Homo sapiens: one gene and its partners. Changing the gene in region 5 together with the main gene of any one other region gives a genetic interaction. Each region holds a gene or a part of one and is shown on either strand. Other genes may lie near its edges.

The links.
Region 1: changes in TRAPPC12 (region 5) and RAB5C together harm fitness more than expected from each alone (negative genetic interaction), as found in Homo sapiens cells (one large-scale study listed by BioGRID).
Region 2: changes in TRAPPC12 (region 5) and MAN1B1 together harm fitness less than expected from each alone (positive genetic interaction), as found in Homo sapiens cells (one large-scale study listed by BioGRID).
Region 3: changes in TRAPPC12 (region 5) and DCAF7 together harm fitness more than expected from each alone (negative genetic interaction), as found in Homo sapiens cells (one large-scale study listed by BioGRID).
Region 4: changes in TRAPPC12 (region 5) and SEC24B together harm fitness more than expected from each alone (negative genetic interaction), as found in Homo sapiens cells (one large-scale study listed by BioGRID).
Region 6: changes in TRAPPC12 (region 5) and SEC31A together harm fitness less than expected from each alone (positive genetic interaction), as found in Homo sapiens cells (one large-scale study listed by BioGRID).
Region 7: changes in TRAPPC12 (region 5) and SLC33A1 together harm fitness less than expected from each alone (positive genetic interaction), as found in Homo sapiens cells (one large-scale study listed by BioGRID).

Annotation. Positions count from the first base shown.
Region 1 is NC_000017.11:42,147,830-42,152,318, forward strand, and holds part of RAB5C (ras-related protein Rab-5C), read right to left. Parts: intron 1-4,489. UniProt on the Homo sapiens protein: The small GTPases Rab are key regulators of intracellular membrane trafficking, from the formation of transport vesicles to their fusion with membranes.
Region 2 is NC_000009.12:137,089,662-137,094,150, reverse strand, and holds part of MAN1B1 (endoplasmic reticulum mannosyl-oligosaccharide 1,2-alpha-mannosidase), read right to left. Parts: intron 1-4,489. UniProt on the Homo sapiens protein: Involved in glycoprotein quality control targeting of misfolded glycoproteins for degradation.
Region 3 is NC_000017.11:63,556,549-63,561,037, reverse strand, and holds part of DCAF7 (DDB1- and CUL4-associated factor 7), read right to left. Parts: intron 1-4,489. UniProt on the Homo sapiens protein: Involved in craniofacial development. Acts upstream of the EDN1 pathway and is required for formation of the upper jaw equivalent, the palatoquadrate. The activity required for EDN1 pathway function differs between the first and second arches.
Region 4 is NC_000004.12:109,523,975-109,528,463, reverse strand, and holds part of SEC24B (protein transport protein Sec24B), read right to left. Parts: intron 3,647-4,489; coding exon 3,523-3,646; intron 3,119-3,522; coding exon 2,960-3,118; intron 2,239-2,959; coding exon 2,065-2,238; intron 1,143-2,064; coding exon 1,032-1,142; intron 1-1,031. UniProt on the Homo sapiens protein: Component of the coat protein complex II (COPII) which promotes the formation of transport vesicles from the endoplasmic reticulum (ER).
Region 5 is NC_000002.12:3,385,845-3,390,333, reverse strand, and holds part of TRAPPC12 (trafficking protein particle complex subunit 12), read right to left. Parts: intron 2,715-4,489; 5' UTR 2,711-2,714; coding exon 1,664-2,710; intron 649-1,663; exon of another isoform or gene 421-648; coding exon of another isoform or gene 319-420; intron 1-318. UniProt on the Homo sapiens protein: Component of the TRAPP complex, which is involved in endoplasmic reticulum to Golgi apparatus trafficking at a very early stage.
Region 6 is NC_000004.12:82,862,920-82,867,408, forward strand, and holds part of SEC31A (protein transport protein Sec31A), read right to left. Parts: intron 4,398-4,489; coding exon 4,236-4,397; intron 4,042-4,235; coding exon 3,889-4,041; intron 1,680-3,888; coding exon 1,443-1,679; intron 474-1,442; coding exon 399-473; intron 1-398. UniProt on the Homo sapiens protein: Component of the coat protein complex II (COPII) which promotes the formation of transport vesicles from the endoplasmic reticulum (ER).
Region 7 is NC_000003.12:155,843,939-155,848,427, reverse strand, and holds part of SLC33A1 (acetyl-coenzyme A transporter 1), read left to right. Parts: intron 1-4,489. UniProt on the Homo sapiens protein: Acetyl-CoA transporter that mediates active acetyl-CoA import through the endoplasmic reticulum (ER) membrane into the ER lumen where specific ER-based acetyl-CoA:lysine acetyltransferases are responsible for the acetylation of ER-based protein substrates, such as BACE1.

The DNA of each region.
Region 1 (4,489 bases), on a different chromosome or scaffold from region 5:
CTTACACCTGTAATCCCAGCACTTTGGGAGGCCGAGGCGGGTGGATCACCTGAGGTTGGGAGTTCGAGACCAGCCTGACCAACATGGAGAAACCCCATCTCTAATAAAAATACAAAAAATTAGCCGGCCGTGGTGGCACATGCCTGTAATCCCTGCTACTTGGGAAGCTGAGGCAGGAGAATCTCTTTAACTCGGGAGGCGGAGGTTGTGGTGAGCTGAGATTGTGCCATTGCACTCTAGCCTGGGCAACAAGAGCAAAACTCTGTCTCAAAAACAAACAAAAAAAAAGAAGTGGGCAAGGCTGGGCACAGTGGCTCATGCCTGTAGTCCCAGCACTGGGAGGCTGAGGCAGGCAGATCATGAGGTCAGGAGTTTGAGATCAGCCTGGCCAACATGGTGAAATCCGTCTCTACTAAAAATACAAAACTAGATGGGCGTGGTGGTACACACCTGTAATCCCAGGTACTAGGGAGGCTGAAGCAGGAGAATCACTTGAACCCAGGAGGCGGAGGTTACAGTGAGCAAGATCGTACCATTGCACTCCAGCCTGGGTGAGAGGTCAAGACTCCATCTCAAAAAAAAAAAAAAAAAAAAAAAGAAGTGGGCAGGTGTTTGGTGTTTGCTTTAAGGGCAGGTTTGAATGTCTGCCCTCTCCTTTAACAACTTCAGTAGGGAGCCTACTATGCTGAGTGCCATGCCAGGTCCTAAACACACAAAGATCAAACAGGACCCGATCTGTGCCCCTAAAGGGCTCACCCACCAGAGAATGAGGCAAATAAGGAACAATGAGATAGCAGTTGAGAAGACAGCCCATGTAGGAGACAAGCCCTCAGCCCATTTGGGGCAAGGGAAGGCTTCACAGAGGAAGTGGCATTCAAACTGAGCTTTGAGAGAAAAGTAGGGAGATACAGTTTCCAGGCACGTGAGGTGCAGAAGAGCCTTCTAGGCAAAGTGAACAGTAGGCATTTAGCCCAGAGATGGGTCAAGGAGAGGCTGTATTGAATAGCGATAAGAGCACACCCCATCTCTGCCATTACTACATAGTCCCCCACTCTAACATGGGGATTAAACACAGAACCTACCTCCTGGGGTTGTCGGAGGATTAAAGGAGTCAACACATAGGGCTCACAAGAGTGCCTGGCACATGGCAAAAATAGAAGTTTAGCTTTTATTTGTATTACTGTTCTTATACATAGAGGATGGGGCTATTTAATTGGAAAAGTAATCTCTTACAATACCAAGCTATTAATGCAGAGGATGCCAAAAATATTCCGATTCTCCTCTGCCAAGGTTTTTGCAAGCATGATTACCTGGATTTTGGCACATCCTAGTTTATAAATTCTACCTAAAGCAGTGCTTCTCAAACAGCCCCAACATATGTACCCTTCACTCAAGTCAGGGGAGAGGAAACTCCCAGAAATCTGGGAGTTGAACCCAAAGCAGCTGGCTACAAGCAAAATACTGTCTTTGGCCAGGTGCAGCGGCTCATGCCTGTAATCCCAGCACTTCGGGAGGCCAAAGTAGGAGGATCACTTGAGCCCAGGAGTTCTGAGACCAGCCTGGGCAACATGGCAAAACCCTGTCTCTACTAAAAATACAAAAACTAGCCGGGCATGGTGGTACATGCCTACAGTCCCAGCTACTCAGGAGGCTGAGGTGGGAGGATCACTTGGGTCCACAAGATCAAGGCGGAAGTAAGCCATGATCGTCCCACTGCACTCCAGCCTGGGTGAGAGAGGCCCTGTCTCAAAAATAAATAAATTAATTAATTAATTAAAGTTTCCTGTGTTAGCTTCAATTCATGCAAACTTTGCATTCTAATCTATAATAGTTACAGGACTGTTTTAATATTAAAACGCTTACAACTAAGTAAAACTGAAGTGGCACAGCGTTCTCTTCTGTAAAATGGGAATACAACCCACATCAATTCTGTTCAATGTCTACAAAATGAGACAATTTGTGAAACCATCAAGCAATGTACAAGGCATCCCAGCAGACATTTTGTTTTTGTTTTAGACATGGGGTCTCATTATGTTGCCCAGGCTGGTTTTTTTTTTTTTTTTTTTTGAGATAGACTCTTGGTCTGTTGCCCAGGCTGGAGTGCAGTGGTGCAATCTCGGCTCACTGCAACGTCCACCTCCCAGGTTGAACTGCCTCCCAGGTTCCTGCCTAAGCCTCCCAAGTAGCTGGGATTACAGGCATGTGCCACCACGCCTGACTAATTTTGGTATTTTTAGTAGAGATGGGGTTTCACCATGTTGGCCAGGCTGGTCTCGAACTCCTGACTTCAGGTGATCTCCCAGCCTCAGCCTTCCAAAGTGCTAGGATTATAGGCGTGATCCACCACACCTGGCCCCCAAGCTGGTCTTGAACTCCTGGGATCAAGCGATCCTCCCAAAGTGCTAGGATTATAGGCATGAGCCACTGTGCCCAGCCCCAGCATACATTTGGTACACATGTTGAATCAGAATCAGTGTTGAGGCTGGGCACAATTACCTGAGGTCAGGAGATCGAGACCAGCCTGGCCAACATAGAGGAACCCTGTCTCTACTAAAAGTACAAAAATTAGCTGGGCATGGTGGCACACGCCTATAATCCCAGCTACTCAGGAGGCTGAGGCAGGAGAATAGCTTGAGCCCGGGAGACAGAGGTTGCAGTGAGCCAAGATCACGCCATTGCACTCCAGCCTGGGAGACAAGAGTGAAACTCCATCTCAAAAAAAAAAAAAAAAAAAAAAAAAAAAATCAGCCAGACACGGTGGCTCATGCTTGTAATCCCAGCACTCTGGGAGGCCGATGAGGCGGGCAGATCACCTCACCTGAGGTCAGGAGTTTGAGACCAGCCTGGCCAACATGGTCAAACCCCATCTCTACAAAAATACCAAAAAAAAAAATTAGCCGGGCATGATGGCAGGTGCCTGTAATCCCAGCTACTCAGGAGGCTGAGGCAGGAGAATCGCTTGAACACAGGAGGCGGAGGTTGCAGTGAGCCTGGGCAACAGAATGAGAATGAGACTGCCTCAAAAAAAAAAAGAACCTTCAAACCCCTACCTACCCATCAGAGGCAACTGCTATTTTGTGGGCATCCAGTCTGCCAGCACTGGACTAGCTCCTTTCTTTGTTTCTAATTCTGCAAGGTATTTAGCATCCCCATTTTACCAGAAGAAACACAGGCTCAGTGAGGTCAAGTAACAAGCCCAGGGTCACACAACTGGTAAGTGGGGGAATCAGGATGAGAACTCAGGTCCAACTGCCTCTGAAGTTCTAGTGCCTTCCACCCGACCACACTGCCTGTTTACTGGGCAAGGGTTAGAAGTAGAAGGTCTGGCCAGGCGCAGTGGCTCACGCCTGTAATCCCAGCACTTTGGGAGGCCAGGGTGGGCGGATCACGAGGTCAGGAGATCGAGACCATCCTGGCTAACACGGCGGAACCCCATCTCTACTAAAAATACAAAACAATTAGCCGGACGTGGTGGTGGGCACCTGTAGTCCCAACTACTCTGGAGGCTGAGGTAGGAGAATGGCATGAACCCGGGAGGCGGAGCTTGCAGTGAGCCAAGATCGCACCACTGCACTCCAGCCTAGGCGACAGAGCGAGACTCCGACTCAAAAAAAAAAAAAGAAGTAGAAGGTCTAAGAAGTACTTGCTTGGTGGGGCTGAATTTAAATGTATGATCTTGCTCTGTTTCCATGTAAATTCTAGTGACAGGAGCTCCTGGTGGCAAGCCACATTCTTCCCACTTGCAAGCAGCAGGCAGCACCACAGGAGAAACAGAGGACTAACCAGAGGCCCGCTCTGTTGCTTCCCCCTTAACCCTGCCCAGTGGGACCCCTGAGTTTACTCACTTTAACTTTCATTTTCTAGCCATTAGGACTTTCAGGTTCCCAGAAAAATTAATGACATGTAGATGTCAGCAAACTCTCAGGCCCTGAAGAGTACTGACTTGGGACTCCTAACTGTTTTGGTCCTCAGAGGCAGAGGTGAAAGGGGTCAAGAGAGAAGACAGGAGGTCGGGTAGACGCTGGGGAAGACAAAAAAACAGAGGAGCGCTAGTGATGAGGAGGGCTAAAGAGTTAAGAGTCTGCCCTTGTGCCGTGGCGCACTCAGTCTGCATGTTCATTCATTTAACGAACAAACCAGGCCGAAGAAGGGCCCACTGTTAGATCAGGTCACATCTGACCCCAAATCCAAGCCCCAGCTCTACTACTTTCTAAATGTATGATCGATCTTAGGCAAACTACTTAAGTTCCTTCTGCATCCCTTCTAAAGCAGGGACACTTGCCTTATCTTACTCAAAAAAAAAAAAGTAATAATAAAAATTAAAAACAAAGTGGGGAAACAAGCCCCACTATTTCCCAAGGCACCTATGAGGAATATGTATGAAAATAATTTTGCAACCTTAAAATGATTTTTAAAAATTAGTGTTACTGTCCCTCTACAGTTTAACAGCCCTCTAATTGTGAGAGGCAAGAGGGCAGGGGAGGAACAG
Region 2 (4,489 bases), on a different chromosome or scaffold from region 5:
CCCAGCTACTTGGGAGGCTGAGGCAGGAGAATCACTTGAACCCGAGACGTGGAGGTTGCAGTGAGTGGAGATTGTGCCACTGCACTCCAGCCTGGGCAACAGAGTGAGACTCTGTCTCAAAAAAAAAAAAAATCACCATGGGTTCAATGATCACAGTTTTATGATCTTGTAGGGAAGTTCATCTGAGTTTTACTCCCAAATTTTCTTTCCATATGAATTTTAAAATCATCTTTAAAAACAGAGGTTGGAATTTTGATAGGGAGTCAATGGATTTACAGATGAATTTAGGGAGAACTTAAATCTTTTCTCTTTTTTTTGAGACAGAGTCTTGCTCTGTCGCCCAGGCTGGAGTGCAGTGGCGCGATCTCGGCTCACTGCAACCTCCGCCTCCCAGGTTCACGCCATTCTCCTGCCTCAGCCTCCCGAGTAGCTGGGACTATAGGTGCCTGCCACCACGCCCGGCTAATTTTGTTTTTGTATTTTTAGTAGAGACGGGGTTTCACTGTGTTAGCCAGGATGGTCTCAATCTCCTGACCTTGTGATCCACCCGCTTCAGCCTCCCAAAGTGTTGGGATTACAGGCGTGAGCCACTGCTTAAATCTTCACAGCAGAAGAATAAAATGTCTACTTATTTAGGTCTTTTCAAATACCTTGAGTGTTGTACTTTTATTTATACTGACTTTATATATTTTAGTATCAGGATTACTCCTACGGACTTGGTGGCATTCTTTTCTTGTGATTGTGATGGAGATCACTTTTCTTTTCTTTTTCGAGACTGAGTCTCACTATCACCCAGGCTGGAATGCAGTGGTGCGAACTCCGCTTGCTGCAGCCTCCACCTCCCAGTTCAGGCCTCAGCCTGCTGAGTAGCTGGGATTACAGGTGCGCACCACCACGCCTGGCTAATTTGTGTATTTTTAGTAGAGATGGGGTTTCACCATGTTGGCCAGGCTGGTCTCAAACTCCTGACCTCAAACCTCAAGTGATCCGCCTGCCTCGGCCTCCCAAAGTGCTGGGACTACAGGTGTGAGCCACTGCAACCTCCTGAGATCTCTTTTCAATAACATTTTCTAATTGATTACTGCTACTATATAGCAAAGTTCTCTAAAACTAATTTCTAAGCCGGATGAAGTCATAAGAAGCATACTTGGTAAAGGATGAAATATTCTAACTCACAACAGTCATACTAATAATAAAGGGAATACCAATAATAAAGGAAAATATAAAAGTCCTAAGACTCATCAAAGGACACGGACAGCTTCCGGGATGGGAGCACATAGGGCCGTTCATCACCTCTCCCCTCCTGTAAGTGTCCCTGCTTCTAGGCAAGACACACAAGCATCCACGAAAAGCAGGCGCCAGTTTCTGACTGTTGCATTGGAAACATTGCCGACACGAGAATGCCCAGTGCTGCCATGGCACCACTGACTGCTACTCTCAGCACCGTAGCAGGGGAAGCAAATTCGGGAATAGTTTGTCATGATACACGTCATAGGACATCAAAATCTTCACAACCTTTAACTCTTAATAGTTTACGTACAACGGATGTAATGGGGACATTTACAAATGAAGAAAGAATCAACAGATAAATGATTTAGAAAATGATGGTTTATCCAAGCAATGGAGAAGAGCTATAAAAATCTGTATGAAAGGGAATATTCTCATGTGCATAAAAAAAGAAACAGGGACCAATCCAGCCCCTAACCCTCAATTACGTACACACGTGTGTATCCAAATACCAATCCAGCCCCTAACCCTCAATGATGTATACATGTGTTTATCCAAATAAAATTATTATTATTATTTTTTGAGACAGGGTCTCCCTGTCATCCAGGCTGGATCATAGCTCACTGTAGCCTCAACCTCCCTGGCTTAAGCGATCCTCCCACCTCAGCCTCCCAGGTAGCTGGGACTATAGGCATGTCGTGCCTGGCTAATTTTTTTTTTTTTTGGTAGAGATGGTGGTCTCACCGTGTTACCCAGACTGGGCGTAAGCAATCTGCCTGCCTTGGCCTCTGAAAGTGCTGGGATTACAGGTGTGAGCCACCATACCCAGCCACATAAATTGAAAGACATATACCAAGTGTTTCAAGAGTTGGACTGGGAACAGGGGTAATGTGTGGCTGTGTATTCCCCTTTATACCTTCTCAATGTTCCCATTTTCTCTCCTAAGCCCCTATAACATTTGAAATCAGACAGGTGTGGTGTCTTATGCCTGTGATCCCAGCATTTCAGGAGACTGAGGCAGGAGGATCACTTCAGCTCAGGAGTTGGAGACCAGTCTGGGCAACATAGTGAGACCTCATCTCTATTAAATAATTTTAAGGCCGGGCGTGGTGGCTCACGCCTGTAATCCCAGCACTTTGGGAGGCTGAGGCGGGCAGATCACGAGGTCAGGTGATCAAGACCATCCTGGCTAACACGGTGAAACCCCGTCTCTACTAAAAATACAAAAAATTAGCCGGGCGTGGTGGCGGGCACCTGTAGTCCTAGCTACTCAGGAGGCCAAGGCAGGAGAATGGCATGAACCCGGGAGGTGGAGCTTGCAGTGACCTGAGATTGCGCTACTGCACTGCAGCCTGGGAAACAGAGGAAGACTCTGTCTCAAAAAAAAAAAAAAAAAAAAAAATATAAAACAAAAAAATTTGAACTCAACCAAAGTAAAACGTTAACAGAAAGGGATCTGGCCTAAACACAGCCTCATCCCTAACCAGGTCTAGACAAGTGCCAGGGTCTGAACAGGAGAGGCAGTGCAAGTGATCCCTGGAGGGCAGGATGTCTCCAAGTCAATGCTTGAGAAAGACAGAAATATTCACCATCCACCACCCCAGCTGCTCCTGGACACTAGGTGCTGGCTTATGGGTCACTTGTGAGTGGTGGAAACACATCTTTCAATGGAAAAAATACCACAGTCTGCTCTCAGGCAGTTACGATACTCCATATGCAAAGGAGACGAAGGACCAAAGAAGGAAAGGAAGCACCTGTCGGCTTTCCAGTCAGGAAAATTCAATTTGTAGACAAAGACCTTGGTCAAAGGCAGAAATCCTCACACCGAAGAGTGTGGAGCAGTGGCCCCATGGCCAATCAAGAGCAGGACTCTCCCATCAGGCACGGCACCTTCTAGGGGCCAATTCCCACCCTACACCCTCTGCCCGGCTAGACCACCCTTGGAGAAGCTGCTCAGCGACAGGAATGCTGCCTTTGAAAGGAGAATGTGGGTTTGCTTCCTTCTGCTTTTTGGTACTGTCCATCCCCTCTCTATTGAGCTTATAGAAATTTTAAAAGGACACATTTTCTTGTTAAAGAAATCAAAGGGCCGGGCATGGTGGCTCATGTCTGTAATCCCAGCACTTTGGGGGGCTGAGGTGGGCAGATCAAGAGGTCAGGAGTTCGAGACCAGCCTGACCAACATAGTGAAACACGTCTCTATTAAAAATACAAACGTTAGCTGTGCGTGGTGTCGGGCGCCTGTAATCCCAGCTACTCGGGAAGCTGAGGCAGGAGAATCACTTGAACCCGGGAGGCGGAGGTTGCAGTGAGCTGAGATCACACCACTGCACTCCAGCCTGGGCGACAGAGTGAGATTCCGCCTCGAAAAAAAAAAAAATCAAAACACCCCCACGGCAGTCTGAGGGTGGCCCAAGCTCATGGGGGCCAATGCCCCAATGCCCCTCTTGCTGAGATCCTTAGCCAGTGGGCAGCAGCCTGCCTCCAGCTCCCCAGCCCAGGAGCTGTTCCTCGGCAGGTTACCACTCCCAAGGCCACTGTTAGAAAGCGCTGTCTGTCCCTGTCACAGCCCTGCAGGGAAGTCCACCTGGCGCTGAGGACTCTGGCCACAGGTGAAGCTCCCAAGGCACTCCCACACCTGCTAGACACAATCACAGATGTACCAACAACAGTAACTAACACCCTAAGGGCCTTCTAAGGGTTCCGAGCAGCCACACCAGAGTCAGCACCACCCTGGTGTTCTCAACGGTGTCGGGGATTTGGCTGTTCTTCCTGAACCAAACCTTCACTGACAGGACGTTTTCCTGGTTCTCCAGCTGCCTCCTGACCCATCCCCAGTCTCCACTCCCCCTGCCCTCCTCCCTGACCCCAATCTTCTCAGCCTGGTGGTGCCCAGGACTAGGCCTGGCCCCTTCTTCCAACGTTTCCAGAGGACACAAACCACCTATACCTAGGGACTCCTAAAACCTGTCTCCCCTGGCAGACTCTGATCCTGGCACCACCTGCCCACCAAGGTCTCCATGGCGCCTCCCAGACATCTCACAGTGGGCAGATCCAAAACGGAGCTCCTCAGTGTCCCCAAGCCAGAGCCTGCACAGCCTTTGCTGGCCCCTCCACCCGGGGACTCACCCTCCTTCTCCCAAGGCCCACTCCTGCGGAGCACTCCTCCCCCCACTCAGCTTTTCCCACGGCCAGGCAGCTCTCCTGGCCTCCTGCCCTCCACTGTGTCTCCACCCAGCCAGAGCAGTTTCACAGTAAACAT
Region 3 (4,489 bases), on a different chromosome or scaffold from region 5:
TCAGCCTCCCAAAGTGCTGGGATTACAGGCATGAGCCACTGCACCCAGCCTGTAGTGGGGATTACAGGTGTGAGCCATCACGCCCAGCCTGTATGTTTAACATGTAAAATATTTCCTTTTGTTTCAACATTTTTGCCTTGAATTTTATCTGATGTTAATATTATCATGCCTGACTTCTTCTCTATAAAAAGAACTGCTTCTTGCTACTATATGCCTAGTGCTTCTTCATTCATTCCTTTCTGTTTATTCCTCTTTCTGAAGTTCTACTAAGATTTAATTTTTATTAATGTTAGCTTTTTTATTACTAACTTTCTTACTAGGTAATACATACACAAGGCCCAAATTTTGAAAGGCATAAAAGCAAAGCAATTACAGTACAAATTAGAGCCCCTACATCCCAGTCCCTTTCCCTGGAAAAATCAATGTTATCAATTTCTTGTGTATCCCTTCTACACACAACCACATATGGGTGTACATATGTATATGCATATGCTTTTAAAAAACACAGGTGTTTACTCTTCTACATATTTTTCCACCGAATATTTATTTTAAAATATTCCATATCAGTATATGAAAAGCTAGCTCATTCTTTTAACAGCTGCATGGAGGTAGCATAATTTATTCAACAATTTCCCTAATAATAATATTTTCATATTTTTCTTTTACAAATAATGCTAAAATGAATATCCTTGCACTTTAGTCATTTCAACCACATGAGTATAGCTGTAGGATGAATTACCACTAGCGGAACTACCAGGTGGAAAATAATGCCAATTTAAATTTTGATAGCAACTGCATGGGAAAGCTACACATACGTGTATACACACACACACAGTAGATTACCACGGTTTTTTATTTTTCCTAATCTAGCTGAAACTCCATTTTTTTTTTTTCTTATGAGGTTCAGTTCTTCATACGTTCAAGAATCATTTACATATCCTTTCTGGAAACTCTTCCTATCTATTTCTCTTTTTCTACTGGGTGACTGGTCTCCTGGTGATTTGCAGATCTTTATATGCAGTTATTAAGGGATTTGTTCTTTGTCTAGGACATTACATGTATTTTTTCAGTTTGTCACTTATCTTTTGACTTTGGTTTTGTTACAGAGATTTTATTTTTATATAGTTTACTTCTACTTTCATGGCTTTCTCACACCAAGATTCTCCCGTGTTTTACAGTTATATGTTTACATTCTTCCATTTATCTGGAATTCTGGTACAAGGTTTTTTTTTCTTTGAGACGGAGTCCCACTCTGTTGCCCAGGCTGGAGTGCAATGGTGCCATCTCGGCTCACTGCAATCTCTGCCTCCTGGGTTCAAGCGATTCTCCTGCCTCAGCTTCCCGAGTAGCTGGGATTACAGGCACCTGCCACCATGCCCGGCTACTTTTTGCATTTTTAGTAGAGACAGGGTTTCACCATGCTGACCAGACTGGTCTCAAACTCCTGACCTTAGGCGATCCACCCGCCTCAGCCTCCCAAAGTGCTGGGATTACAGGTGTGAGCCACTGCACCCGGCTGGTACAAAGCTTAAGGTAGAGATCCAATTTTTTTTTCTGGTTTCAATACCAATTATTAAAAATATATATATATATATATACACACACATATATATATACGTATATATATACATATATATACATATATATATACATATATATACACATATATATATACATACATATATATACGTATATATATGTATGTATATATATATACATATATATATATATATGGGTCTCACACTGTCACCCGGGCTGGAGTGCAATGATGCAATCTTGGCTCACTGCAACCTCCACCTCCTGGGTTCAAGTGATTCTCCTGCCTCAGCCTCCCAAGTAGCGAGGATTACAGGTGCCCACCACCATGCCTGGCTAATTTTTCGTATTTTTAGTAGAGACGGGCTTTCACTATGTTGGCCAGGCTGGTCTCGAACTCCTGACCTCGTGATCTGCCTGCCCCCGCCTCCCAAAGTGCTGGAATTACAGGCGTGAGCCACTGTGCCTGGCCTTAAAAATATTTTTTCTTCATTTCCTATCACCTTTAGCACAGACTACATTTCTTTTTGTATTCTGAGTTCATTTCTAGACTCTGTTTATACATCAGTTCTTAGAGTATCAAACGATCTTATTTATTATATCTTTGCATTATGTTTTAATATCCATCATTAGTCCACCTTTTCAGAAGTTTTTTGACAATGTGTGCATGTTTGTAAAATTTATCTGTAGAAACAATCAGTTTGCCTGGTTCTAAAAAACCATTATTAAAAATCTGGAGTATTTTTGGCCAGGTATGGTGGCCTATGCCTGTAACCCCAGCACTTTGGGTTGGGCAGGCAGGAGGACTGTTTGAGGTCAGGAGCTCAAGACCAGTCTGAGCAACATAGTGAGACACCTACTGATTAAGCCCAGGAGTTTGAGGTTACAGTGAGTTATACTCACACTACTGCACTCTAGCCTGGGCGACAGAGCGAGACCCTGTCTCCAGAAAAAACAACTGTGGTATTTTAAACAGGGATTACATTAAGTTTAGGGACACTGACATCTTTAGGATACCAAGCTTTACTATACAAGAAAAGAGAATACCTTCCCATTTTTCGAGTATTGTTTTGTGTTCCCCAGCATTATTATTTCCACATAAACCTTACATATGCCTAAGTATATCCCCAAGTATTTATAGCAGCACAATCTACAGTATTTGTACATTCCTAGACATTGCTCCATGGCCTTCTGTCATCAAATGTAGCTAGCCTAATTTCTTTTCCCCTCTTAAAGAGGACTTGATCATTTTGTCTGGGTGTCCAAATAATTCTTTCTTCATCCTTAAAACATAGAAATGTTCCTAGGGATGCCAGGCTCTGTGCCAGGCCTGTAGTCCCAGCACTTTGGGAGACTGAGGTTAGTGGATCACTTGAGCCCACAGTTTGAGACCAGCCTGGGCAACATGGCAAAACCCTGCCTCTACAAGAAATACAAAAATTAGCGGGCGTGGTGGTGTGCACCTGTAGTCTCAGCTACTCGGGAGGCAGAGGTGGGACAATCGATTAAGCCTAGGAGGTCAAGAGTGCAGTGAGCTGGGATCATGCCTCTGCACCCAGCCTGGGCAACAGAGTGAGACACTGTCTCAAAACAAAACAAAACACACGAAAAATAAGATAAATTTTTTAAAAAAGAAATTTTCCTAGGAAATGTTTCAGTGCCAACTGTTCAGTGCCAATTTTTCTTATCACTTCATGCCAATTTGAACTTATCACTTCAAATCTTTGGCAAGTTCAAATCATGCCAATTTGAACTTATCACTTCAAATCTTTACTTCTAAGTTCTTCTTTAACCATATATTTGAGTTTGTTTCATTTCTTTGGTCCTCTTCTTGAGGGACACCAATTATACTTACGTCAGATCTCTTTTACTTTCTGCATCTATTATGTTCTCATTGTTTTCTTCAGTTTCATTTTTCAATCTGTCCTCCCTAACCTTTACTGTTTTCAGCACTGTGTGTTCATCTTTATTCTGTTTCTTTCTTTCTTTTTTTTTTTGACAGTCTCACTTCATCACCCAGGCTGGAGTACAGTGACATGATCTCGGCTCACTGCAACCTCCTCTTCCCAGGTTCAAGTAAGTCTCCTGCCTCAGTGTCCCAAGTAGCTGGGATTACAGGAGTGAACCACTGTGCCCAGCCTTTATTCTGTTTCCAATGTGGCTTTTAATCCTGTGATAATTTTAGTTTTCTCTTCCACTACTTTCCTGTGTGCTCTGCCAGCTGATGTTATATTTTCTCTTTGCCATGCCTTATTTTACCCAATCCTCTATATCTCTGCTTGAAGTTCTGTATTTTCTTAAGTTCTTTGAACTCACAGTGGTAGGACTGACAATTATTTTTCAACCAAGCTAAAGACATCTTTTTAGTATGGGTACTTTATCTGCCACTTATTTTCCATTTCCCCCCATCCTTTCTAATAGCATCTTTCTACAGCTATTGTGCTGATTCCATTTGTTTTGTTTTTTTGGTTTTGAGATGGCGGTCTCGCTCTGTCACCCCAGCGGGAGTTCAGTGGCAAGATCTTGGCTCACTGCAGCCTTGACCTCCTGGGCTCAAGTGATCCTTCCATCTCAGCCTCCTGAGTAGCTGGGACTACAGGTGCATGCTACCACTCCCAGCTAATTTGTTTTTTCTTTTGAGATGGAGTTTCACTCTGTCACCCAGGCTGGTGCAGTGGCACAATCTTGGCTCACCACACCTCCGCCTCCCAGGTTCAAGTGATTCTCCTGCCTCAGCCTCCCAAGTAGCTTGGATTACAGGCACGCACCACCACATCTGGCTAATTTTTATATTTTTAGTAGAGCCGGGGTTTCACCATGTTGGTCAGGCTGGTCTCAAACTCCTGACCTCGTGATCCGCCAGCCTCAGCCTCCCAAAGTGCTGGGATTACAGGCATGAGCCACTGCGCCCGGCCCTGATTTATTTTTTCTTTTTGAAACAGTCTTGCTCTGT
Region 4 (4,489 bases), on a different chromosome or scaffold from region 5:
ATCATTTGTATGTAGCTTTTTTTTTTTTTTTTTGAGATGCAGTCTCACGCTGTCACTCAGGCAGGAGTACAGTGGCGAGACCTCGGCTCGGCTCACTGCAACCTCTGCCTCCTGGGTTCAAAGGATTTTCCTGCCTCAACCTCCCAAGTAGTTGGGATTACAGGGGTGCAGCACCACGCCCAGCTAATTTTTTTCTTGTATTTTTAGTAGAGACAGGGTTTCACCATGTTGGCCAGGCTGGTCTTGAACTCCTCACCTCAAGTGATCCGCCCACTTCAGCTTCCCAAAGTGTTGGGAATGAGCCCACCTGGAATGAGCTCATTACAGGCATGAGCCACCACACCTGGCCTATGCAGCTTTTTGAGTCTAGCTTCTTTTATTCAGCACAATGTCTTTGAGAGGCATCCATGTTTGTTTAAGTATTGACAGTTCATTCCTTTTTATTGCTGCATTATATTCTATTGTATGAGTGTACCATGGATTGTGCATATATTATTTGAAGGACATTTCAGTTTTTACCACATTTTTAGAGATTATGAATTCCCTCAAAGATTTTGAAAGTAAGATTAAGGAAGAAATGTGAGGACAGTCTGATTCACAATGCAGTAAATAAAAATGTAAAACATATGCTTTTTAAATAAGAGAAAATCCTAGCTTCAGTTTCTTTCTTTCTTTTTTTTTTTGAGACAGAGTCTCACTCTGTTGCCCAAGCTGGAGTGGAGTGATTGGAGTGATGCGGTCTCGGCTCACTGCAACGTCCGCCTCTCAGGTTCAAGCAATTCTCCTGTCTCAGTCTCCTGAGAAGCTGCGATTACAGGCGCCTGCCACCACGCTCGGCTATTTTTTCGTATTTTTAGTAGAGATGGGGTTTCACCATGTTGGCCAGCCTGGTCTCAAACTCCTGACCTCGTGGTCCGTCCGCCTCAGCCTCCCAAAATGCTGGGATTACAGGCGGACGCACTGCCACCAGCCAAGCTTCAGTTTTTAAGATAGAAAAATACATTTCACATGTTCCTTCAATTTTTACTCACCCATGTTTGCCAGAAGGCAGATGGCAGCTTGTACATCCACTCCCGCATATACATCTGCTAGTGAACTTACCACTGGCAAACAAAGTGTATGTACTCTAATTCTCCGCTCACCTAAAAAAAAAGTCATTGAAAATACATTAGATCAAAAAGGAAATAAAGCAAAGCAAACATGTCAAATACTTTTTTTCTTTCTTTCTTTCTTTTTTTTTTTTTTGAGACGGAGTCTTGCTCTGTCTCTTAGGCTGGAGTGCAATGGTGTGATCACAGCTCACTGCAACTTCTGTCTCCTAGGTTCAAGTGATTCTCCTGCCTCAGCCTCCCAAGTAGCTGGGATTACAGGTGCCTGCCACCATACCCAGCTAATTTTTGTATTTTTAGTAGAGATGGGGTTTCACCAGGTTGGCCAGGCTGGTCTGGAACTCCTGACCTCAGGTGATCCACCCACCTCGGCCTCCCAAAGTGCTGGGATTACAGGCGTGAGCCACCGCCACATCCAGCCACAAGTCGAATTTTTATTCAAGTTATTGTTTTGGCTAGATTACATCACCAACAGGATTTTGAGATGTAAAAACCAAGTTTTACAATGAACATTTTTAAAAGAAAATTAAACACTCTCCAAATCTGCAGAGTATGAACATACGCTATATCACTCATTCTAAATTATATCCTATAGAGTAAAATACCAGAAAACTTAACTGTCAAGTAACAAATGAAGGCCTTAATTGCTAAGCAGTTTTTTACTTTTTGGGGCAAGAAATAATACAAAGAATGGCATAGCTGGATTTAGCATGAACTGTTTTGAAACAAGATTCTAAGAATACAAGTCTTCCATAAATTAAAAAAGTGTGCTATTTAAAGATGCAAAAGTGAGAGTTAAAAAAAGAAAGAAAATAACAACATATGTTTGATTAACTAATACAAATTCCATTACTTCCCACTGTGTATTCATTCTTTTTCCCCACTCCACTAAAGGCCATGTGAAAGGAGGGAGGAATTACTGCTGCAGACTATATTTCATTTCTGTTAACATTACCTTTGCTTGATGTATATAATAGGGCTGTTTGAAAACATACTAAGGAAGTATCTGTTAAACTTTCTTCAATTGACAACTGCACCGCAAATCCAGCATCAGGATTGATGTTGGCAAGGGATAACAAATCAGTAGAACGGACAAAGAAGTTACCGTGAAAAGTGTGCATTGAAAGACCTAAAAAGGAGAAAATCATAAAAAATCAAGTTAACAATAGTATCTTCACCTCAAGCTAAAGTTACTTTTTTAAGTCAAAGATGTTTATGATTTTGAATCAAAAGGATAACTGGGGAGTCAAGGTTCAAGCATAGGCAGAGTTTCTAAAATATTAATTCAAAAAAACTAGTGGACGTTATATAAAAGGGAGACTATACATTTCACTTGTATTGACACCTAACCTTATTTACATTTTCTCACATGTGACTTGAAGTCAGACATAATCTGACTAAACATTTAATTTACAAAATTAAGCAAATGAGGGTTATTATATAACTCATCCTAGATTTAAAATAAAGGTAAAATAAAGGATTAAAACAAATATTCACATAAAACCAAGGAAGTGTACATTAAATGATTATGAAGGCAAAGACCCTTACTTTGACAATTCTTATTTAAGATCTTCCCTATTCCTCTAATTCTCCTTCTAAAATCATTTCTAATATAGGCTTTCTCTTAGGTTCTTCTGAGTAAATCAAACATTACTTTTGTCTACTTATTCAAGTTATTTTTAAAAATTGGGCAAGGATTATTCAATAACTATTATCTATTTAAAACATGGTATAGCTAATGAGATCAAACAGTCTTCCATCATGAACAGTCAGAGGTAGTCAATACATGGAATGCTCACTGACTTTGATACAAGTATTTAATATAAAATATAACTTTTACAACTTCATACCTTTAGTACACCTTATTCTCATAACAGCTTCAAACCCAATTTTTCTTGTGAGATACCGTTTTAGGTCTTTTTGTAACTTTTCTGCTTGTGAAGGATTGTGAGTATAGTGGAATGATGGATAATAATAGATGCACCCTGCAGAATACTTGGACATGCAAGCTTTAGAGAGAAATACAAAAAGTATTAGCTATAGAAATAATAATATTTTACTTGTCCAACAGTAGTACAGATTCTACATTATGAAGAAATCTAAGTCATGAGAAAACCTAAGCCATCAAAATAAGAACATACAAATCTGAGAAAACAGTAATATCTATAAAATATATGATAAAGTTTACTGTTGAGCAGAATGGTAAGGGAATCATGCTATCTAAACAAAATACAAGTGACATTTTATATTTGTATAGTGCTTTAAACTTTACTGGTAGTTTTCATAGATATTGTCTATCTAATGCACATGCTTTTCTCCCTAAAATATAGAGAATGCTTACTGAAGAGTTTAGATTTAATTATGCATTAAAAATGTTCATTTAAACAAATGTACCCATGATGACTTTCCTTACCTAGAGAAGCAAGATCAGAATACTGTGAACTTAAAAGGAACAAATCCACTGCAGTTTGCTGTCCCGAGCAATCTAATGCAAGTTTCTTATAAAAATCAGTTGCAGGGCCAAGATGTTGTACCACCTAAGTCAACAGATCATATAGTAAGAGCTAGCAATCTTTATGCTCATATTTTCATGTCATTTTTATAACAAAAAGGATATCCTCTGCCTCCCTACCAAACTAAGAGTTTTCTAAATGTCTAGGCATTTGGTGCAGATTCCCTATGATAATAATAATGATAGATAATCTTTATAAAAAACACTTATGTGCCAGCACTGTTTCACACAAATTAATTTTCATAACACATCTCATATGGTTTTTATCATCTACATTTTCAGACGAAGAAACTGAGGCAATAACTGATTAAGTAACTTGACCAAGATTACATAGATATTGAGAAGTGGATATTGGAATATCAACCCAAGAAATCTGGCTGCAGAATGAGTGCTGTTAACCATTATTAAATATTGTTAAATAACTTAAGAGAGTAAAAGATTAAGGAAGGTGTTTCTTTTGGTATGAGAAGACTTGAGCTGAGAAGGTGACACTGGAGAGAGTCTCCAAGTTCTTAATCATCATACAACATTTCCTAAAAAAAAGTTTCAATCCTCTTAATTACACTGTATGATGATTATATTAGAGCTTACTCTAATATAAGGAATTAAGGATATGAAGGAATATGTAAACCAGAACAGATACTGAAACTTTAGAGTCCTAGGCAGACAGATAGAGAATATTTTTGAAAGTTAAATGAGAAAACAAAACAAATCAAAACAAAGCTCTATCAAAGGATTCAGTAAATATATATCAGCTTCCTGTGTTCAAAACACCACAGTAATTTATAATGGATTGTAATGGGTCAACGAACTAAATGCCAGCTACACTTGTTGATGAGTTTAAAATACATACTTATTTTAAAATTAG
Region 5 (4,489 bases):
TTTACTTAAATATGTTTGTACTGATTTTGGTCCCATCTGGGCTGCCTTAGAGAGGCTATTTTCCCACACTTCAACAAACAGTAGATCATGATTGATAAATGGAAACGGAAATGACTCGAGTGTGATGGCAGCAGGAGGCAGACAAATCCTAGGCAGACAGGGGCGGTCCCCGGTGAAACCTGACTGGAACTGAAGACAGTTTAAAGCCTAGCTGCAAGTCCCGGATAAACCCACGTAAGGGACTGAGAACCTTTCGTCCCATGTGGAGCACTTTCCTCTGATTGATTACCCCTCTTCACCTATTTTACATATACCTACCCTTCCCCAACTGGTTTTTTCCACTGTCGTGCCCACCTTTGAGTGGTGACTTTGTTTTAGCCTTCTTTTTTGCATACTCACAATCAGCATGCACCCCTCCATTCTGAGCCCAAAAAAGCCCCTGAGCCAGCCACACTGGGAGAGACACCACCTGACTTTCGGTGGGGGACCACCCTCGCCTCCCCTCTCTGCTGAGAGCTGTTTTGTGCTCAATAAAACTCGTCCGCCCTCCTCACACTCTGGTTGTCGGCATAATCTCGTTCTTCTTGGAGGCAGGACAAGAACTCAGGACTCCGCGGAGTGCAGGTACCAAGACAGCAATAACACTGTAACCCTCCATCCCCCACCCCCTTCGGCTGCCCCACTCAACGGGAAGCAGTGGTCTGTTAATGCGCCCGTTTAGAGCCGTTAAGATGCCCGTTAGTCCGGCAGCAGATGCGGGTCGAAAAGAGCTGTGTGCACGCTGTAACATCCCCTCTCGGGCTTCGGGGTCGCGGTTGTTGCTCTTCGGGCGCCACGGTGTTCCCCTCGCCTGGACGCAGGAGTCCACTGTGGGAGTCACTTGCCACACGCCTGGTCCAGCTACAAGCCCCGTGTGAAGCCTGCTCCTATGCTGGCGGTTGGAGCAGCCCCCGGACCCCTACACTCAGTTGCTCGCACAACCCACCTGCTGGGGGCTGAGAGCACAGTCACCGAGGCCACGGGATATGCCAAAGCGCAAGCCAGGTGCGGCCCGGCAGGCCTAGTGGGCGAACCTGGGCCGAGAGAGGCCTGGGCAGGGGCATCGCCGACCACGGAGGTCTCCAGCTGGCAAAGCGGCACCGAAAAAAACCCTGCATCAATTGTCTTTCATTAGTAGTGAGATCGAACATTTGTATGTTACCATTTAGCTTAACATTTATATATTTCTGTGATTTGTTACTTTTTGGGTCACGCGTATTTTTCTTATTCAACCTATAAAAATTCTACATCGGGCACATTATATGTTACAGGAATATATTTTTCCATATTTTAAAGAAAGAAATGGATTTATTATTAACTGGAGTTCAAATGTCAAATGGATTACAGGACATGGAGAACTGACTGAGAGAATTACGGTAGAACTGTCTGCCTTGGTGGTATTTATTTCTACCTCTCTGAGTAGCAGTCCATTAAATATGTTCTGTTGGGGAAACCAACAGATCCCTAATTACCCAGGGACAGAGGAACACAGGCGCTCACAATGGGATGTTAGGAATTACTGAAAACAAGGCCTTCTCCTTCTCCATCCCTAAAGGGGCACTGTGCGTATCTCACAGACGCAGAGAGGAGGCACGGGCTGCGGAGGTGGGAGACCCGGGCTCACCTGGATGTTGTCGAACCTGAGGCCCGGCATGGTGAGGTTCTCCTTGTCCACGAACACGGCGCCGCGCTGCTGGGTGGCCACGGCCCGCAGGACTCCACGCGTAGCCTCGCCGGGAAGCCAGGCGTCGTTCCTCCGGTCCATCTCGCTCATGCTCAGGGCGGTGGCAAAGGGGTCGTCACTCCCTGCAAACACTGCCTGGATGTGCGCGAAAGGCTCTGGCGACGCCGGGGGCGCAGCTGCCTGGGGCCCTCGCATGGCCACGGGTTCGGGGCGCCCCTCGGTCCCGGGCACAGCGAGGGGAGGCGGGCTGGCGGGGGCCGGGGAGCCCGCGCCGGGATTGCTGACGGAAATGAAGGCGGAGGTAGTAAAGGAGTCGAAGAAGTCCGAGGCCAAGGAGTGGCTGGCGGCCGTGTCTCCGAAGAACGTGCTGAGGCTGGGGCTGGGCTGCACGACCTGGGGCGGTGTCCTGGCCGAGGCCTCGCTGGCGCCACCGAAGCTGGGCGACTTCACCATCTGCGGCTCGAAGCCGTCCCCGGAGGCTGGGGGCGCGCGCTGGCTGAAGATGGTGCACACCGGGACCGGCTCCGCAACGGGAGGCTCCTGCTCCGGGCGCGCGGCTTCGCTGCCTGGGACCTCGCGGGCCGCGTCCTGCCTCGGGGCCCCTCCGCTACTGGGTGCCGCGTCCTCGGGGGCACAGTCGCCGTCGGCCTCGCCGCTGGGACTCGGGGTGCCCGCGGGCTCCGGGCCTGGGTCGCCTTCCCCTCCGGGCTCAGCTTCGTCCCGCACTCGGCCCAGGTCGCCCGCGTCGCCCTCGCTGTTGGGGGAGTCAGAGATGAGGACGCTCTCCATCATGTGTTCGTTCAGCTTGTCCGCGAGAGGACTCGAGCCTTCCGATGCGGTCTCGTTCTCTTCGGATCCAAACTCATCTCCGCCAAGATCGATGGTTTCCTCCTGGAAGAGCAACCCCTGCTCCTCCGGAGGCGCGAGCTGAGGGGGGTGCGGGGCCTCCGGGGCCGGGGTCTCCTCGCCGCCGCCAGCGTCCTCCATGACCCTGAAAGCAAAGACAGAGAGAAGGCCCCTGAGCGTGATCTTCATTCACCTCAACCGAAAAATGAGTATTGCTTATAGATTCAAATGACGCAGACTTCCATTTCTCCAGCTTCTTATCCATGTGCTTTTGATTATGGTAAAATACACATAAAATTGACCACCTTAAGTTCAGTAGTGTTAAGTACATCTACATTTCTGTGCAACCAATCTCCAGAACACTTTTTATCTTGCAAAACTAAAATTCCATCCCCATTAAACATTCCCCCGTATACCCATCTCCCCCGCCTAGAGCATCCACCATTCTACTATAAAATAAGTGGAATCACCCGATAACTGTCTTCCTGTGACTGGCTGATTTTACTCAGTATAAAGTCCTCAAGGGCTATTTATGCTACAGCTTGGTCAGAGTTTCCTTCCTTTTTATGGATGAAAAATATTCCATGGTATGCATACACTACATTTTGTTTATCCAGCTATCTGTTGTTGAACACGTGGGTTGCTCCCATCTTTTAGCTATTGTGGATGCTGCTGCAATGAACGTGGCTGTACAAACAGCTCTTTGAGACCCTGCTTTCAATCATTTTGGGTAAATACCTAGAAGGAACTGCTGGATTATATGGTAATTCTATTTTTAATTTTTTTGAGGCACCAAAAAACTGTTTTTCATAGTGGCTGAACCGTTTGTCATTCCCACCAACAGTGCACAAGCCTTGGAATTCACATCCTTGCCAACACTTGTTATTTTGTTTTTATTTCATAGTAGCCATTCCAGTAGGTGTGAGGTTCCAGCCATATAAACACTACTTCATTCTGAGAGTCAGCTAAGTCCCTCCTCTTCCATGAAGCCCTCCCAAGACTCTTCAATTTGTAATAGTCTCTTGACTTCCCCATGCCGTCCGCCCCTACCCCCGCCCCACGCCCCAGCTCATATTATCTGCCTGACTCTGGAAATCTGATACAGTGCGAATGACATGAAAAATTTAAACAGTAAGAAAACAGCACACTCACTAAGCACTGATGGCTGAAGCTGACAACACAACTAGCTAACATTTATCCGCACATACTATGCCCCTGGCTATATATACATATGCCTGTGTGATTCTCAGAACACCCCTCGAGACAGCTGCTATCACTGTCTTCGTTTCGCAGATGAGGACACTGAGGCCTTGGGAGGCTATGTAAGCCGAAATCACACCGCTAGTGAGTGGGGAAACCAGGACCAGCCAAAGAATGAGACAAAGAGCTCAAACTGTAAAAAAGTATTTGTTCTTTTTCTTGAAAAACTTTTACTTTATGTAGTTTTACTCTCATAGTGAACAAATTCAAGTTAAGGAAATCTAAGAGACTATGATAAAAGATAAGGGATTTTTTTCAGAATAAAACAACACGTACCTTTTTTACTTAAAAAATGACACTTAGCTGATCTCTAGATAAGACTACCCTTTTCTCACTGTCAACACTTCCATCATAGTATTCCCAATGAGTCAGCCTTCCCAAAACATTATTTTAAAGTACATAATCCAAGTTATACATTTTGAAGAAGTTTCCGGTTCAGCCTGGTCAGCTACTAATTCCCTTATACATTCATCCAATAATTGTTAAGTATAAATGAATAAAAAATCCAATGAAAAGGAGTAAAACGTTTTTTTTCCTGCCATGTTTCACCGGGAGCCCGAAGAACAAATTGCCCTAGAACCCCAAAGGGGGAGCCCCCTGTGCATGGTAAGGCTGCTCCTTCGGGTCCTTCCTGTGCAGGGATAGAGGCCGGGCACAAGG
Region 6 (4,489 bases), on a different chromosome or scaffold from region 5:
AGACATAGCCACTAAGCAGTGGGGTTGTGATGTGATCTTAGTTAGTTCTGCCTGACATCAAAAGAGCACTAATCTTCAATATGCACTTAAAGTGCACAGTATACCTCTACCACACATGCAACAACCTGCAATGCTATAGAAAACTCTAGCCATTTCCAAAGAATGATGAAAGGCTAATACAAGTTACATAGTCATTTATCAATATGTATTCAAAACTCTGGCAACCACTGTGGGTAATGATGGAGAATAAGAAAAAGAAAAAGGGAAAAAACGCTGGCAACCAAACACAAATTATTATTAAATGTTTATTGGGTGATTTGAGATAATCTGTGTAGAACTTTATTTTTTAAAAGTATGATTCATAAAGAGCATGCCATCTAACTTTCCCAAAAGTTTACCTTCTTTCCTAGATCTTCTTTTCTGTATCCTAGAAGTTCAAGGTATTTTCCACGAGAATCATCCTCAAAGTTTACCTTTAAAAAAAAAGACATATTCTTAAAACAAAGACCTACATTTAAAGGCCGAATTTTTATAAGAATGAATCAAATTCCAAAGAGAATTATTAAAAATATCTGAAGTCTACATTCTAAAGATTCACTGTTTGAAGGAATCCAAAGAATAGTGGGTTTTTTTGTTTTTTATTTGGAGACCCAGCCTCAGGAGGTCCTGAGAACATGTGCCCAGAATTATTTTTTTAAATAAGTTATTTATTAATAGTAAATATACTAGTAATTAATTATCCTGGTTGAATAAAGCTTACTTTTGAACAGTAATTTCTGTAAATACAAACTTATGTCCAAAGGTTAAACTGATACAAAACTCAAACTATGTGGAATATTCTATGTCCTAAAATTCTTTCCCAAAATTATTACAAAATATAAATTCTTTAATTTTATACTTTAACCTAACTGTATTCAAGACTGCTTTACCTTTGAAAAACCAGTACCGTATAAAGAAACAGACATTCCAGTGGAGGCAAAATGACCAACCAGGAAATTCTATTTGTTATTCTAATCTAACTCCTCTTAAAGTAAAAGGAAAAATGCCTCCAACCTCTCTCCTCTATTCCTCTTCCTCTTTTTTCATTTTCCTTAACTAGATCTACTATAGATGTTAAATATTCTGTTTTCATTATAGTAAACTCTATGTACTCATCTTCAAAATAGGTGTGCTGACTATGTCGCTCTCCTCTAAACAGACCTATTATTATTTTTTTTTACTTATTAAAAATGTATTTCATATTACACTTTTCAAAGCAGAGAAGGAAAAACTCTGGACATAAGTTAGGTTGTATGCTCTTTATAAGGCTTCTTAATTTCATGATGAATTGCTGAAATCACACTTTTTCAATTGTTTCTTTAATAGGAGGACAGATTTAGAATATAAAGGAACAGTTAAATTTGCAGATAATGAAATAATATAGCTTTAAACAGCAACTTTACCTTCAAAAAGGACCACACATTTTTCTCAAATTCAGTCTGAGAAGCATCAATTTTTTTTTGGCAATAATTGATAAATCCTTGTGACTGCACAGCCTGCTGAAGTTGGTCTGATCGGCTGAGGAACTCCTTTTCTGTTACAACCTGACTAATGAACACATGGTGCTGCTGCTGCTGCTGCTCAGCTCCCTGATGAGAAGGCATTCTGACATTCTCAAACGTAACCAGTTTGCCTCCAAACTATAAAAGAGAGAATGAACAAACTCAGTGTTAACCCAAGGATATGGCCAAAAAAAGTGCTTATAAAGTGGCCTAAACAGATAATCTGGATGAAATTAGTTGATACAACCTCTCATGCGCCACAGTCTGACACCACTTCAATTTCTGTTCTAGATGAAATGTACTTTTTTGGTTTTTTGGTTTTTTTTTTTTTGAGACAGAGTTTCGCTCTTAGTCACCCAGGCTGGAGTGCAAAGGTGGGATCTTGGCTCACTACAACCTCTGCCTCCTGGGTTCACGTGATTCTCCTGCCTCAGCCTCCTGAGTAGCTGGGATTACAGGTGCCGGCCACCATGCCTGGCTAACTTTTGTATGTTTAGTAGACAGGGTTTCACCATGTTGGCCAGGCTGGTCTTGAACTCCTAACCTCAAGTGATCCACCCAGATAGAGAAGACCAGATAGGACGATGAGAAGATTAAGCAGATCCAAAGAACAGACTTACGAGTGACATAAAACATATTCAAAGGTCCATTTTAGGAAGATTAATCTTGGAATATGTAGTAGAGATTAGAGGGGGAAAAGACAAGCAACAAATATGAAATCAAGCTATTAGAAGTTTGGCATGAAAGAATTAGGCAAGGTATCAGCAATGTAAAAGGAAGAAACAAACAAAAAGTGCTAGAGAGGATGTGGAGAAACTAGAACCCTTGTGCACCACTAGTGAGAATGTAAAATGGTAAAACGGCTATAAAATGGTATGGAGGTTCTTCAAAAACTTAAAAATAGAACCATCCTATGATCCAGCAATCCCACTTCTGGGTATATGTCCCAAAAAACTGAAAGCAGGATCCCAAAATGATAATTACAAACCCATGTTCACCACAGCATTTATTCACAATAGCCAAAAGGTGGAAGCAACCAAAATGACCATCAAATGAATGGATAAAAAAAAATGTGGTATATATATATATATATATATATATATATATATATATATATATATATACAATGCAATATTATTTGGCCTCTAAAAAGAAGTAAATTCTGTCACACTACAACACAGATAAACCTTGAGGACATTAAGCTAAGTAAAATAAGCCAGCCACAAAAAGACAAGTACTGCATGATTCCATTTATATGAGTAATTTAAAGTAGAAAACTCCTAGCAACAAAGTAGAATGTGGTTACCAGGGATTCAAGGGAAACAGGAAATGGGGAGCTGTTGTTCAAGGGCACAGAGTTTCAGTTTTGCAAGATGAGAAAGTTCTAGAGATCTGTTGCACAACAACGTGTATATAGTTAACACTACTGTAGTATATATTTAAAAATGGTTGTAGTGTATATTTTAAAATGGTTAAGATAGTAAATTTTATATTATGCATTTTTTACAATTAAAATTTTATATTATGCATTTTTTACCATTAAAAAAAGCTGGCAATTAAAAAAGAAAGCTAAAAGGATGAAGAAGAGGGAGGACACTCCCTGCAAAAAGAAAAGAAAAAAAGAAGAAAAGAAAAGAAAAAGAAGGGAGGGAGGGAGGGAAAGAGAGACAGAGGGAGGGAAAGAGAGACAGAGAGAGAGAGAAGGAAGACAAATTTAAAAGGGAGGAGGGCCGGGTGCAGTGACTCATGCCTGTAATCCCAGCACTTTGGGAGGCCGAAGCGGGTGGATCACCTGAGGTCAGGAGTTCAAGACCAGGCCAGTCAACATGGTAAAACCCCATCTCTACTAAAAATACAAAAACCAGCCAGGTGTGGTGGCACGTGCTTGTAATCCCAGCTACCCAGGAGGCTGAGGCAGGAGAATCGCTTGAACCAAGGAGGCGGAGGTTGCAGTGAGCCAAGGTTGTGCCACTGCACTCCAGCCTGTACAACAGAGTGAGACTGTCTCAAAAAAACAAACAAACAAACAAAAAAATGGAGGAGGGGAGGAATATAAAGTGTTGGCTACACAACAACAATGTAAATGTACTTAATGCCATTGAACTGTATATTTAAAAATGAACAAAATGATCAATTTTATGTATATTTTACCATGATTTTTAAAAAAGGGAAAAAAAAGAGTAGGTTCCAATTTTTCAGAGAAACCATTTTGAATGATGAAATACCCACAAGTACATCTCAAATCCCAACTTAAACCCTGATTGCTTCCATCAGAGTGACTCTATAATAACACTTTGGTATAAAAAGTCCTTTGTGCCTATGGACCATAAAAACAAAATCCACCTACTGAAAAAGAAGCACCAACAGGCCTTCGAATCCACTTGGGCGGCTTCTTCAGAGGCAGCACTATACTATGCTGAGCAGTCTGCTGTGGAATTTGTAACGGAGGAAGGGGCTGTCCTGTGCCAAAGGGATCAAGATTCCCAAAAGATGATGAAAGCTAAAAAAGATAATAATAACATAAGCATCCGACCATACACAAAGTTTCATTTTTTTCCAGTCATATCCAAAAAAATTTTTGATCACAATTGTCCAATTAACCAGCATTGTTAATCAGTGAAGTCATTTCAAAATATTACACAACACATACTTTTTTCAGGCATTATAATAGAAAACTTTAACACTTCCTATTACCTTGTCAACTTGTTTCTGTCTTAAACCATCTGTGCTACCTCCCATGATAGAATAAACACTGATACGCCCATCAAACGAAGCAGCTGATAAGACAGCAGGATTTCGGGGACACCACTGAATATCGAAGCACCACTGTGTGTTGGTGGGAAGTTCATATAACACCTAGGCCAACAAAAAACAAACAACAAAACTCAGAAAATGGTATGGCCACTTTGTAACCAAAACACCTGAATTAATGTGGTCAACAAGTATAG
Region 7 (4,489 bases), on a different chromosome or scaffold from region 5:
TACAGGTGGGAGCCACCATGCCCGGCAAGATTGCTAGATCTTAGGCATATTCAAGAGAAACTAGAAATTCCTTTTTTATTTCCTAATTTTACAAACACTTCTTAGGCTCATATAAAAACATGTCTTTAGCTGAGCACAGTGGCACGCATCTGTAGTTCCTGCCACTTGACAGGCTGAGATGGGAAGATCATTTGAGGCCAGGAGTTCGAGGCTGCAATGCGTTATAATAGTGTCTGTGAATAACCACTGCACTGCAGCCTGGGCAACATAGCAAGACCCATCTTTAAAAAAATCTGTCTCATCTATCATCTCTCTATCTGTCATCTATCTAATCTATGTCTTCAGGCCAGATCTAGCCTGTAAACTGGTAATTGAGGCCCTCTCCTCTAGCAGCAGTAGTAACAATTAGAAGTGATTGGAATAGGGAGCAGTGTATTTGGGTTTAGGAGCAGGGAGCAAGACGGTTTAATGACAGAGAAGGAAGCTAAAGATATTAGAGTTTATAAATCAGTTTGTTTATAAATAGGCACGCACATACAGGAATAAATGAGAGAAAGTGTTGCTTTGAAAAAGTTGATGCTATAAGTATGAATCTAACCAAACTAATGACAATAAAAACAGTATTTGTAAGACATTGATGCTTTATTTATTTATTTATTTATTTATTTATTTATTTTTTGAGACGGAGTTTTGCACTTGTCACCCAGGCTGGAGTGCAGTGGCGTGATCTCGGCTCACTGCAACTTCTGCCTCCCAGGTTCAAGCGATTCTCCTGCCTCAGCCTCCCAAGTAGCTGGGATTACAGGCACACGCCACAATGCCCACCTAATTTTTTTTGTATTTTTAGTAGAGATGGGGTTTCACCATGTTGGTCAGGCTGGTCTCGAACTCCTGACCTCAGGTGATCCGCCCACCTCAGCTTCCCAAAGTGCTGGGATTACAAGCATGAGCCACCGTGCCCAGCGACATTGATGCTTTAAATTAGAAAGCAGGACTATTAATTCCTACCTGATGACAAATTTCTTTGTCCTGCTTTCAGAACACATAATTTATATGACTCAAAATGCCTGTTAGAATTTGGAAAAGACTAATTGACCCATTTCTAGATAGACCAGGTATTCTTACATAGGCTATAATACATTCTTTAGCATTCATGTCTAGGCTTAAAATGTTACCCTACATTCTCAGAAAAACAAACTGTATTCCTTTTTTATTTTTTTGAGACAGCGTCTTGCCATGTCATCCAGGCTGGAGTGTAGTGGCACAATCTCGGCTCGCTGCAACCTCTGCCTCCTGGATTCAAGCGATTCTCATGCCTCAGATTCCCAAGTAGCTGGGATTACAGGCATGTGCCACCATGCCTGGTTACTTTTTGTATTTTTAGTAGAGACAGGGTTTCACCATGTTGGCAAGGCTGGTCTTGAACTCCTGACCTCAAGTGATCCACCTGCCTCTGACTTCCAAAGTGCTGGGATTACAGGCATGAGCCACCACGCCCAGCCTATTTATTCTCATTAAAGTAATCTCCCTATAATTTATTGAATAAAATGAATTCTTTAGGAAGACACACCAAGTTTGTTTATCCTGTGCATTTGAATTTCCTTTGGCATATCACCATATGGGGAGACAGAGGTGAGAAGGGGGAATACAAGTAGTCAGTTTAAAGAAGTGAGGGAGCCAGGCACGGTGGCTCATGCCTGTAATCCCAGCACTTTGGGAGGCCGAGGTGGGTGGATCACCTGAGGTCAGGAGTTCAAGACCAGCCTGACCAACATGGAGAAACCCCGTCTCTACTAAAAATACAAAAATTAGCTGGGGTAGTGGTGCATGCCTATAATCCCAGCTACTTGGGAGGCTGAGGCAGGAGAATCACTTGAACCTGGGAGGTGGAGGTTGCGGTGAGCTGAGATTGTGCCATTGCACTCCAGCCTGGGCAAAAAGAGCGAAACTCAGTCTCAAAAAAAAAAAAAAAAGGAAGTGTGGGAAAATATCTATGTTCCAGACCTCATGGTTGGAGCTAAAATATGAACCTTTTTTCTCAGTGGTGTCCAGTTGATAGAAAAGAGAGCTTACTTGCTGTGGGTGTATCTGAGTATCTGGATGACATAATGGAAAACATTTCTTGCTTTAGAACTAGACCGCAGTTTGAATGCCATTTCTGGCACTTTCTGGCTTGTGATTCTGTTTCCTTGTATATAAAGTAGGAGTAATAATGCCTATCTTGGAAAGTGATTTTGGGATTTAAATGAGATGTCCTCTGTTTTTTCCCAGATCTTATAATAGACACTCAGGTGCGAGCTATTGTACCTTTATTGGTTACTAATGAATTGTTACATGCTCTTAATTTCTGCATTCGTGAAAGCACTGGACAAGATCTTGCAGCCACTTCAGAATATTTAGTCTGTTTTTTAGGTCTTTACTCGGAAATCATGTTTATGAAACTTGAACATCAGCTTTGATATCTTGATCATACATTTATATACCATGTATGCTTAAGTTTATAAAATACACAAATCAAAATTAACCAAAATATTAATAATGAAATATTTCCATATTTTTGGTAATAATGATAAAATACATAAATCAAAATTAACCAAAATGTTAATAATGAAATATTTCCATGTTTTTGGTAGTAATGTTTCTTTATGGTTGTTGGCATAACAGGCTATGGATGTCTCTAGCATCAAAGCAATGTTAATAAGTCTAATAAGACTACTGGCTATCATCTATCAACATTGGTCTGATTTGTGATAATTGTGTTCATAAAACTTCTTAATATATTTCCTGGCCTCTCTGAACTATTGGCTTTTTCATTCTTCTGCATGTGCGAGAGATGGAAACCCTTTGAATTAGGGCTTTGTGACTGACCCATTGTCACTACTTCCTTCTTTTTATGTATTTTCTCCTCAAAGCACAAAGAAATTAGAAATATCCTTGTCTGGGTACCGTGGCTCACACCTGTAATCTCAACATTTTGGGAGGCTGAGGCAAAAGGATCACTTGAGCCTAGGAGGTCAAGGCTGCAGTGAGCCAAGTTTGCACCACTGCACTGCAGCTTGGGTGACAGAGTGAGACCCTGTCTCAAAAAAAGAAAAAAAGAAATAATCTTATCTGCAAACATTGCTGAAACCTGTGTAGTTTCTTCTTCTTTTTTCTCTTGGTATTGGTATCAAGGAATTTAAATTTTAGATGGACTGTGTTTATTAAAATTGGTAGACTATGCTAAACAAATTTACAATTCTTTTGCCTAGAAAAATGGAACTACTTAAGTCTTATATAACTGGAAAACTTTTACTTTTCGCTTAACATTAATTGGAATTTTGGTGACAGTGAAAATTATTTTTTTTTCAGGGCTTGTTAAACAACTGTTTTAAAACAGATGATGACCAAAACCCTGCTCAATGAGAATAGTATTGTACGTGAAACTCTAAAGAAGTCATTATTCATCTCATTTTGCAGATGGAATTAAGAATGCAAAAATAGTGGACATGCCAAGTGAATGCTGTTAATAATATGTAAAATTATTTGATTAAACATTTATTACTTAAAAAAAAGTGGACATTAGCCTCACTTATAAGGATAATGTTATTAATACATTATTGTTCATTCCTTTCGAACCAGATTCCAAAATGCTAGAAATTATGTTAAGATGTTATTTTATACTGGGCGTGGTGGCTCACACCCGTGATCCTGGCTCTTTGGGAGGCCAAGGCAGACAGATCATTTGAGGTCAGGAGTTCGAGACCAGCCTGGCTAACATGGTGAAACCCCGTCTCTACTGAAAATACAAAAATTAGCTGGGTAAAGTGGCACACATGCCTGTAATCTCAGCTACTACAGAGGCCGAGGCAGGAGAATCACTTGAACCCGAGAGGTGGAGGTTGCAGTAAGCTGAGATTGCACCACTGCACACCAGCCTGACAAGAGTGAGACTCCGTCTCAAAAAAAAAAAAAAAAAAAAAAAAAAAAATATATATATATATATATATATATATATATATACCTTTATGTAGGCAGTGTAAAATTATGAAAAGAATGTAAGACTCAACTTCAGGAGGTTGAGATTCAAGTTCTGCCTCTGCCTCTGCCTCTTAGTGATTTTTACCTTTGGTAAATATTTAAGTATTCTGAGTTTCTTTTCCTCGTCTGTATTTAATAATAACACATGCTTAGCCTATCCTGTTTGCTATGAGAATCAAATGAGATAACATATAAGAAAGGAATATTTAAATACCAAGGCGAAATTGATCTAAACAAATAATGCTGTCTTTCTGCCTCGTAAGTGAGGTTCAAACTGTAGTGATCACCTTCAGTGAGCACAGCAGCAAGAGCAAGATTCAATCTAAGGAAAAACCCTGACTGAAGAATATTCTAATTGTTTTTGAGAAGAGGTGACTTAGGGTCCTTGATCAGTTGTGCCACATACACCATAAAATAAAAAGTAAAAGCATCTAAAATGGAGCACAAGTCTAGAATGTTTGAGCTATAA